Homo sapiens: one gene and its partner. The gene in region 1 interacts genetically with each later gene. Each region holds a gene or a part of one and is shown in the gene's direction. Other genes may lie near its edges.

Evidence for each region.
Region 2: of AXIN1 (region 1) and CSNK1E, changing one suppresses a phenotype caused by changing the other (phenotypic suppression), as found in Homo sapiens cells (one study listed by BioGRID).

The regions. Positions count from the first base shown.
Region 1 is NC_000016.10:290,094-293,995, reverse strand, and holds part of AXIN1 (axin-1), read left to right. Parts: intron 1-277; coding exon 278-508; intron 509-2,698; coding exon 2,699-2,806; intron 2,807-3,902. UniProt on the Homo sapiens protein: Component of the beta-catenin destruction complex required for regulating CTNNB1 levels through phosphorylation and ubiquitination, and modulating Wnt-signaling.
Region 2 is NC_000022.11:38,310,733-38,314,634, reverse strand, and holds part of CSNK1E (casein kinase I), read left to right. Parts: intron 1-465; 5' UTR 466-477; coding exon 478-553; intron 554-3,902. Other genes in the region: TPTEP2-CSNK1E (casein kinase I), read left to right, coding at 478-553.

The DNA.
Region 1 (3,902 bases):
CACCATGTTAGGTTGATCTCGAACTCCCGACCTCTGGTGATCTGCCCGCCTCGGCCTCCCGAAATGCTGGGATTACAGGTGTGAGCCACCATGCCTGGCCGGGATGTTTTTATTGTGTGGTCTGTGGAGGACGTCCATGTGGCTTGGTGGCCAGGCCCCAGTGCCCCATCCCATCCTATCCCTCAAGGAGGCTGCCCTTGTGAGATGAGTGTAGCCCCACCAGGCCACCTGGCCAGGGTGTCGGCCACAGTCACAACTTGTTCTCTTGTTCCCCAAGGTCTTCGGGGACGAGGAAGCCACAGCCCCATGAGAACTCCAGACCCTTGTCCCTTGAGCACCCCTGGGCCGGCCCTCAGCTCCGGACCTCCGTGCAGCCCTCCCACCTCTTCATCCAAGACCCCACCATGCCACCCCACCCAGCTCCCAACCCCCTAACCCAGCTGGAGGAGGCGCGCCGACGTCTGGAGGAGGAAGAAAAGAGAGCCAGCCGAGCACCCTCCAAGCAGAGGTACGGCCGCGTCGTGGGGTGGGGTGGGTCTTGGGGGTTACCACAGCACCACTCCTGGGGCTGAAGCTCCCCGAGGCCTGAGGTCTTCAGGGGAAAAACGGCCCTCTGGGTGTCCCCCAGCCATACTGGGCCCTTCCATCCACTGAGAACCACTGAGGGGCCACGTGGCAGGCCACCCTGCGGTGGACGGAGGCTGGGGCTGGAGCTTTCACACACCCGAGGCCGCCGCGCTCATTGCTCTGGAGGCGGGGTCCCTCCTCAACCTGAGCCCAGTCTGCAGGGAGGCTGCAGGGCCCCAGTGTGTGGGGAACGCCGGTCCCCAGCCAGAGGCTGCTCGCTGCTGGGCAGCCTGGGCTTTAGGGCAGAGGTCCTGGAGGCATGGCGGCTGCCTCTTGACAGTTGCGTCCCAGGAGCCCTGAGTGGCTCTGCACGGTCGGAAAGCTACGTGGTTCTGAAAGCCGTGCAGATGTAGAAGTGTCGTCCTGGACGTCCAGCCCACAGCCCTCCTCGCTGTGTCCTCTTGTCATCCTGGATGTCCAGCCCACAGCCCTCCTCACTGTGCCCTTCTCTCATCCGGGACGTCCAGCCCACAGCCCTCCTCACTGCGCCCTCCTTGGTCTTCTGGGCTCCGTAGCCAGACCCTGTTCTCTCCCTAGGGCAGGGAGGCTTCTGTCTGGGCTGCAGGGAGGTCTCCCCTTTGTGTGGGCAGCATTTTCGCTCCAGGCCAGAACCTGGCTTCTCCATTTTCAGCTTGCTCATAAGGCCAGTTTTCTCGGCCATCCTGGGTCATTGGAATTCCCCACAGATCAGTGTCTCTTTGAGGGTCCTGGGAGCCTATAGCTCACCCAGGCCCTGGGGCTGTGGTCACAGAGGCCATGGTTGCCTTCAGAGGTCACCAGCTCCTCCTGTCCACCTTGGGTCACCTGGGGCCTGGGGTCCAGGCCCGCCTCCCGGGCCTCCAGCTTTGGGGCTGTGCCACTCCAGGGAGGCTGTGGCTAGGGGCCTTATTCTGCCGAACCAGCATCAGGGTTCAGACCCTTCCCAGCTGAAAGCCTGTGTGGTCTCAAGTCATTAAAGGTTCCTGAGCTTCTGCCAGGCTGTGAGCCTAATGACAGCTCTGGGGCCAGAAAGGGTCACAGTTACCTCAAACCCAAAGGGTGACCACTTTATGACCAAACATCTGTGACCCTGTGATCGTGTTCGGCCAACAAGGAGCTGGAGCCCCCTGCCATGCAGGAGCCTGGAGTGTGGTGCTCGGAGCCGGGGCGTGTGACTGGGCTGGCAGATGAGCCGTGGTGGGCATCGTGTGCAGCAGGTCCGAGGCCCTGGGCGTGTGTGGGCTCTCCTGCCGGGGCTTCCTGAGCCATCCTTGCTGGGCTGAGCAGGGGTCTCTCAGGTTGCGTCTGCGCTTTCCCCTGGTACCCGTGGCCCCACATGATGGCAGGGGATGCCCGCTGAGCCGTGGGACCACTCCCGCCGTTCTGAGACACGACCCTCCCGCCCGTTTGGCTGCTGGGCTCCAGCATCCCCCCATGGGGAAACCCAGAGTTGCTGGGTTTGTCCGTCCAGGGGATGTGGGTTTTTGCGAGAAGCTGTGGAGACGGAGTGAAGGCCCAGAGGCAGGTTGGGTGCTGGGCCCTGTCAGGATGTCAGAGTAGAAACCACCATCAAGGTCGCCCAGTGTACCCCGGTGGAGGTGTCCACGTGAGAGGAGCTGCTGTGCTGCCCCAGGATGGCCTCAGTTGTGGCGCCGGGGGGCCCTCAGCCTCCCTGAGGTGCAGACCGAGTTGCCACGCACGCCCCAGAGCCAGTGTCCACGCTATCGGTGGGGAATTCATGCCAAGAGACTGAAGGACAGACTCTCGGGACGAGATGTCATCCCACCAGAGGGGATGAGGTGGTGGGATCCCAGCACCCCTGATCGGAAGCTCCCCAAAGTGCGGTCCAGGGAACTCAGGGGGTTGGTGCCGGGATCATGAATGTGGGGCGCGCTGCAGTATCGGGTACCACCAAGGCAGGCCTAGGAGGGGACTCGGTGTCTTGTCTACCCTGCAAACTGGAGCCTGCGCAGGGTGGGTTGTTCGGGCCCTTCACGCTCCGTCCGTCCCTGCGCAGCAGCATTGGTCGAGGCTCCCTCCCCAGGGCTGGTGGCCGCCGGCACAGCCACCTTTGACGCGGGTTGTTCCCTAGGTATGTGCAGGAGGTTATGCGGCGGGGACGCGCCTGCGTCAGGCCAGCGTGCGCGCCGGTGCTGCACGTGGTACCAGCCGTGTCGGACATGGAGCTCTCCGAGACAGAGTACGTGCGTCCTGAGGGTCCTCCCGGTCCTGCCCACCCCAGCCCTGGCGTCCCAAGCCAGGTCCCATCGTAGAGCCGCCGTCCCGGGGCTTGAGCTCGGGTACCACGCTCAGAAGCAGCTGTGGCAGGAGAGGGTCCCGTGGCATCAGACTCGAAGCTGCCCGAGAGCCTTCTCCTGTCTCCATCAAAGGAGACGCTGACTGTCCAGCATGATGACAAGTGACCAAAAGGCCCGGCTGGAGGCCTGGGCACAGCCAGCCCCTGCATCCACACAGGTGTCACGGCCAGGCTTCCTGTGGGGCAGAGACCTGCCTGCGCCTCCACCCGGCTTGGAACGGGCCGGTCCCTGCCAGGCCTGACTTGACCAGGCTCGGGGCTGCAGGTGCTGAGGTGCCCGGGGTGCGTCTGCTTGCAGTGTGGGTCTCAGCCATGCGTGTCTGTCCAGCCCGTGCAGTCAGTGAGTCGGGGCTCTGCTCCCACCTACAATGCTGACTGCTCTGAACCCGTGAGAAAGGGCTCAGACCATGTGATCCCACATGGGCCGTGTCGACGGCGCCTTTATGTGCTCAAGGTGGCAGGAGGAGGGGGCACACCCCAAAAGGGGCCTTGAGAACAAGGGTCCCCCAGGCCTTGCCAGGCTTGCCCCAGATGCAGGTTTGTTGTGGCCCTCATCGTGTAGGCGGTCTTGGGGCAGCCTTCACCTGTCCCTGGGGCAGCCCCCACGTGTTGGCTCTTCTCTGATGGGCCTGGCTCCAGGAGGCTCCGAGGATGTGGCACTGGGAGGACGTCTAAGAGCGCACGTGGCTGGGGGCCTGGTGTGCAAAGAGGATGGTCACATGGCTCAGGTGGCCATGAGGCCTTCCTGCCCTGGTGTTGGCTCTGGAAGCCTCTGGTGCACCCAGCCAGGAGGAGGCCCAAGGGCTGAACCCCAGTGGGCCAGGGGCAGCTTCTGGAGTCACTTGAAGGACAGGTGGCGGCGGGGTAGCCGAGTGGGGGGTGCGAGAGCAACCAGGCCCCGCCCGTCATCCCGGCACGGCTGTGGAAGCACAGCACCTGTCAGAGGAGGGCCCGGCTCAGCCTGGGCAGGAGACGGTGC
Region 2 (3,902 bases), on another chromosome or scaffold:
AGGTGGATGGTCGAGGGCATTCTTTTCTGCCTTCCCCCCAGTAGGGGATGCGACTTTCTCCTGCAAGGCGTGCTGGGCACTGGCGAGGTCTGGCCTCTGGGCAGGGGCAGTACTTGGGAAGACCAGGCCAGGCTGTGGGAGCCTGGGGGGTAGGAGGTGTAAGAGGGCTGATGCCCGTTGTGATCCCTTGAGAAGCTTCTTTTGAGGGGCCCCTGAATGAGCATCCCCCAAAGACATGCTTGCTTGGCTGCTTCCTCTCTGGCCACACTGAAACCTGTCCTCAGCCTGCCTTAGCTGTTCCCCAGGTGTGTGGAGTGCAGGCTGTGGGCCACCTGACACCTGCAGAATGTGGTCTTCGAGAATGCAGGTTTTCGAGTTCCTGGTGGCTCTGCCTGGCCTTGGTGGACTGGACCCCTTTCCCGGCTCCCCACGTCGCTGACCCTCATGTTCCTGCTTCCTCTGCAGCAAGAGTGAGCCATGGAGCTACGTGTGGGGAACAAGTACCGCCTGGGACGGAAGATCGGGAGCGGGTCCTTCGGAGATATCTACCTGGGTAAGTGTTCCTAGCTCCAGCTGGAGCCCCTGGGGCCAGCCCATGGGACCAAGAGGAGGAAAGACCCCAGGATTTGGGGATCTGAAGTCAGAATGTGGCTCCAGGGGCATGATTTGCCCCAGGGCCATCCCAGATGGGGAAGGAAGCAGCAGGTTGCCGGGAGGCAGGCCAGGGGGCTCCTCTCGCAGGCCAGGCTGGGCACTGGAGGGTATTTTTAGCTCCAGTTTCTGCAGGAGTCATGCGGTTCTTTTGTGCCTCAGTGTCCCGGGTCAGCTGGGTCACCAGCTGGGTGTGGGAAAACCCAGGCGGGGTTCACATCCTCTCCCCTGCTTCCTGGGAGAAGGATATTGGTAGATAGAAGGGACTTGGGTTGCTGCTGGACCCCTAGCCAGGCCCCCCTCTCTATGTCCTGGCCTCCTGGAACCCAGCCCAGGCAGGCTTTGGGATGACGCAGGCTCCCCTGTAACCTCGGGGGTGGGGTGGGGGGATGCGGTCTCCTCATTAGGGAGTTCTCTCTCTCTCTTTTTCTCTCCGGATGTGCTTCCTGTTGAAAGTATGAGTATGCTGTGATGTTGCATTTTAAACAAATCACTGACCTCTCAGTCCTCCCCTTGGCCTGGGAGAAATGAGGCTTGCGCCTTTCAGTGCCACTTCTGAGGGGCACGGTCATGAGTCTTGGCCCTTCCTTTGTGCTTATTGGTCCAAAGGGAAGGTATTTAGTGTTGGTGCTTGTGGATTAGCGGGTGGAGGCTTGAAGTTGCTGGAGTGAGGTGGCCAGCCCTTCTACGAGTTATCCTCATTCCTGTCCCTGCACCCTCAGAAGCAGGCTAGACACACCTCTGTGCCTTGGTTACCCTCCTTGGAAAATGAAAATCAGCTCTGTCCAGTGCAGAGAACACCAAGTCTGTGTGTCGTGTCCATCAGCTCAGAACTTCGGGGTTTCTGTTACCCCATGGTTAGGGTTCCTTGGAGTATGAAATGTGCTAAGGAAGCCTCAATGGAGACGGGGACGGAGACTGGGAGTTCCCTGACCACTTCCTTGCAGGGTACTTTCTGCAGCCCCTAGAGATAGTACCAGATTATTTGTTTGGCACATCAGGAAACTGAGGCACAGATGGTCAAGTTGGCCTCCCAAGACCGCTCTAGAAAACTGGCAGAAGCAGCCTGTATGCCCACAGCCCTCCACATGAGTGAGAGCGTGGAAGACAGAACATGCCGAGGGAGACGTTAGACGTCTAGCTCTGCGTTCTAGACGTGGCTTTGTGTGGCTGTGGGAAGGTCATGCAGCTCCTCTGTGCCTCAGTGTCCCCATCTGTAGTTTGTGATAATGCTGCCTGACTGACCAAGAACTGTTCCAAGGCAGAGATGAAATGACAGATGGGAAAGTATTTTGTAAACTCTAAAGTGCCAGCCAGATGTGCAGTTCATTGCTGAGTGCTTAGTAGATGAGCCTCCCCTATGGACACCCTGGAGCTCAGAGGGAGGGAGAGTGTGTGGTGCAGCTGGTTTAAAGGTTTTTCTCTGCGACCCCAAGCTACTCCCGGGGAGGCAGGCATTTGGTAATATCTGCTAGTGCCCAGCGCAGTGGGTGTTCACTGAAGGCTAGTCAAGCAAACCAATGAGAAAATGGGGATTGTGACATGCACAGACATGCACAGTAGCCTCACAGCAGAATAGAAAAATGCCGGGATGGCCAGGTGCGGTGGCTCACACCTGTAACGCCAGCACTTTGGGAAGCCAAGACAGACAGATTGCTGGAGTCCAGGAGTTCGAAACCAACTTGGGCAACATGGTGAGACCCCATCTCTACAAGAAAAATATAAAAAGTAGCTGGGCATGGCGGCACGCGCCTGTAATCTCAGCTACTCAGGAGGCTGAGGTGGGAGAATCACCTGAGCCATGGAGGTTGAGGCTACAGTGAGCTGAGATCACACTCCAGCGTGGGTGTCAGAGTGAGACCATGTCTCAAAAAAAAGGAGGCCAGGAGATATGGCTCACACCTGTAATCCCAGCACTTTGGGAGGCCGAGGCGGGCAGATCACTTGAGGTCAGGAGTTCGAGACCAGCCTGGCCAACATGGTGAAACGCTGTCTCTACTAAAGATACAAAAATTAGCTGGGTGTGGTGGCACATGCCTGTATCCCAGGTACTCTGGAGGCTGAGGCGGAAGAATGGCTTGAATCTGGGAGGTGGAGGTTGCAGTGAGCTGAGATCGTGTCATTGCACTCCAGCCTGGGCGACAAAGCAAGACTCCATCAAAAAAAAAAAAAAAAGAAGGAAAGAAAAGGGCTGAGATGTGGGGGCCAGTCCAGGTTCAGATCCCCAGCGTGTTCCTCATTTGCTGTGTGACCTGGAGTAAGTCACCATATCATTCTGAGCCTCAGTCTTCTCATCTGAAATGAGTGTACCCAGCTCCTTACTGTTTGTGAAATTGGAGTGGGTGTAAAGGACCCTCGTATTATTGAAGCTGTTGGGCTGAGCACTGAAGTCTGGAGCCACTGGCTGGAGGTCAAAGGGCATGGAGACAGCTCTTGGCACAGACTTGTTCCTAGACAGCGCCCATCCCAGGTCCCGTCGCTCTTTTTGCAGACAGGAGACAGGCCCATGGCTGGAGCGGGGACAGCCCAAGATCACTCAGAAAATCCAGAATCTTGTGTGGTGGGACCTCCCTGGGGACAGGACTTCCTGTTTATCTGCATAGTCATCTCATTCATTTTAAAAACTAAGTACAGATTTACTCCTCTTTGTACTGGCTCTAGAGTAAATTCGACCTAGGTTTGGGTGCTGGTTCTTCCTTTTGTGAGCTGTATGCGCTTGAGCAGGTGATGACCTTGTCCATCCTTGGCTTCCCCATCTGCAAAATGGGGTCGTGCAAAGTAATGAGGTCGTGGCGTGTAAAATACCCACGTGTGCTGGGCCCAGCAGTAGTGCTGTGCGCTGCGCCCCCACCATTGGTCTTAGTTTCTAGTTCGGAGTTGATTTCGAAGGGTCTGGGTCCTCTGGGTCTGAGTCTGGGGAGGCGAGTCAGACTCCTGACTCTCCCATCTTCACTGGTGCAAGGGCCTCAGGGGACCCTGCCCTGACTCACCATCCTGCCAGCACCCTCCTGGGCCCCTGTCTTGTTGGTTTGGGGACAGTGGTGATTGTAGGGCGTCCCCGGCCAGCCTTGCTGGCTCCATTTATTCAACACTCTGGCCACATTCTTATCCCCAGTGCTCTGCCAGGGCCTGACTCCAGATGGCCTCTGCCGGTGGGGCTGGATGCGTCCTCCAAGCCCTGCTTTCCAGGATCACCCGAGGGCCAGCACACTATGGATGTGGCTTCTGCCCCTTCTCCCTCTGCATCATAA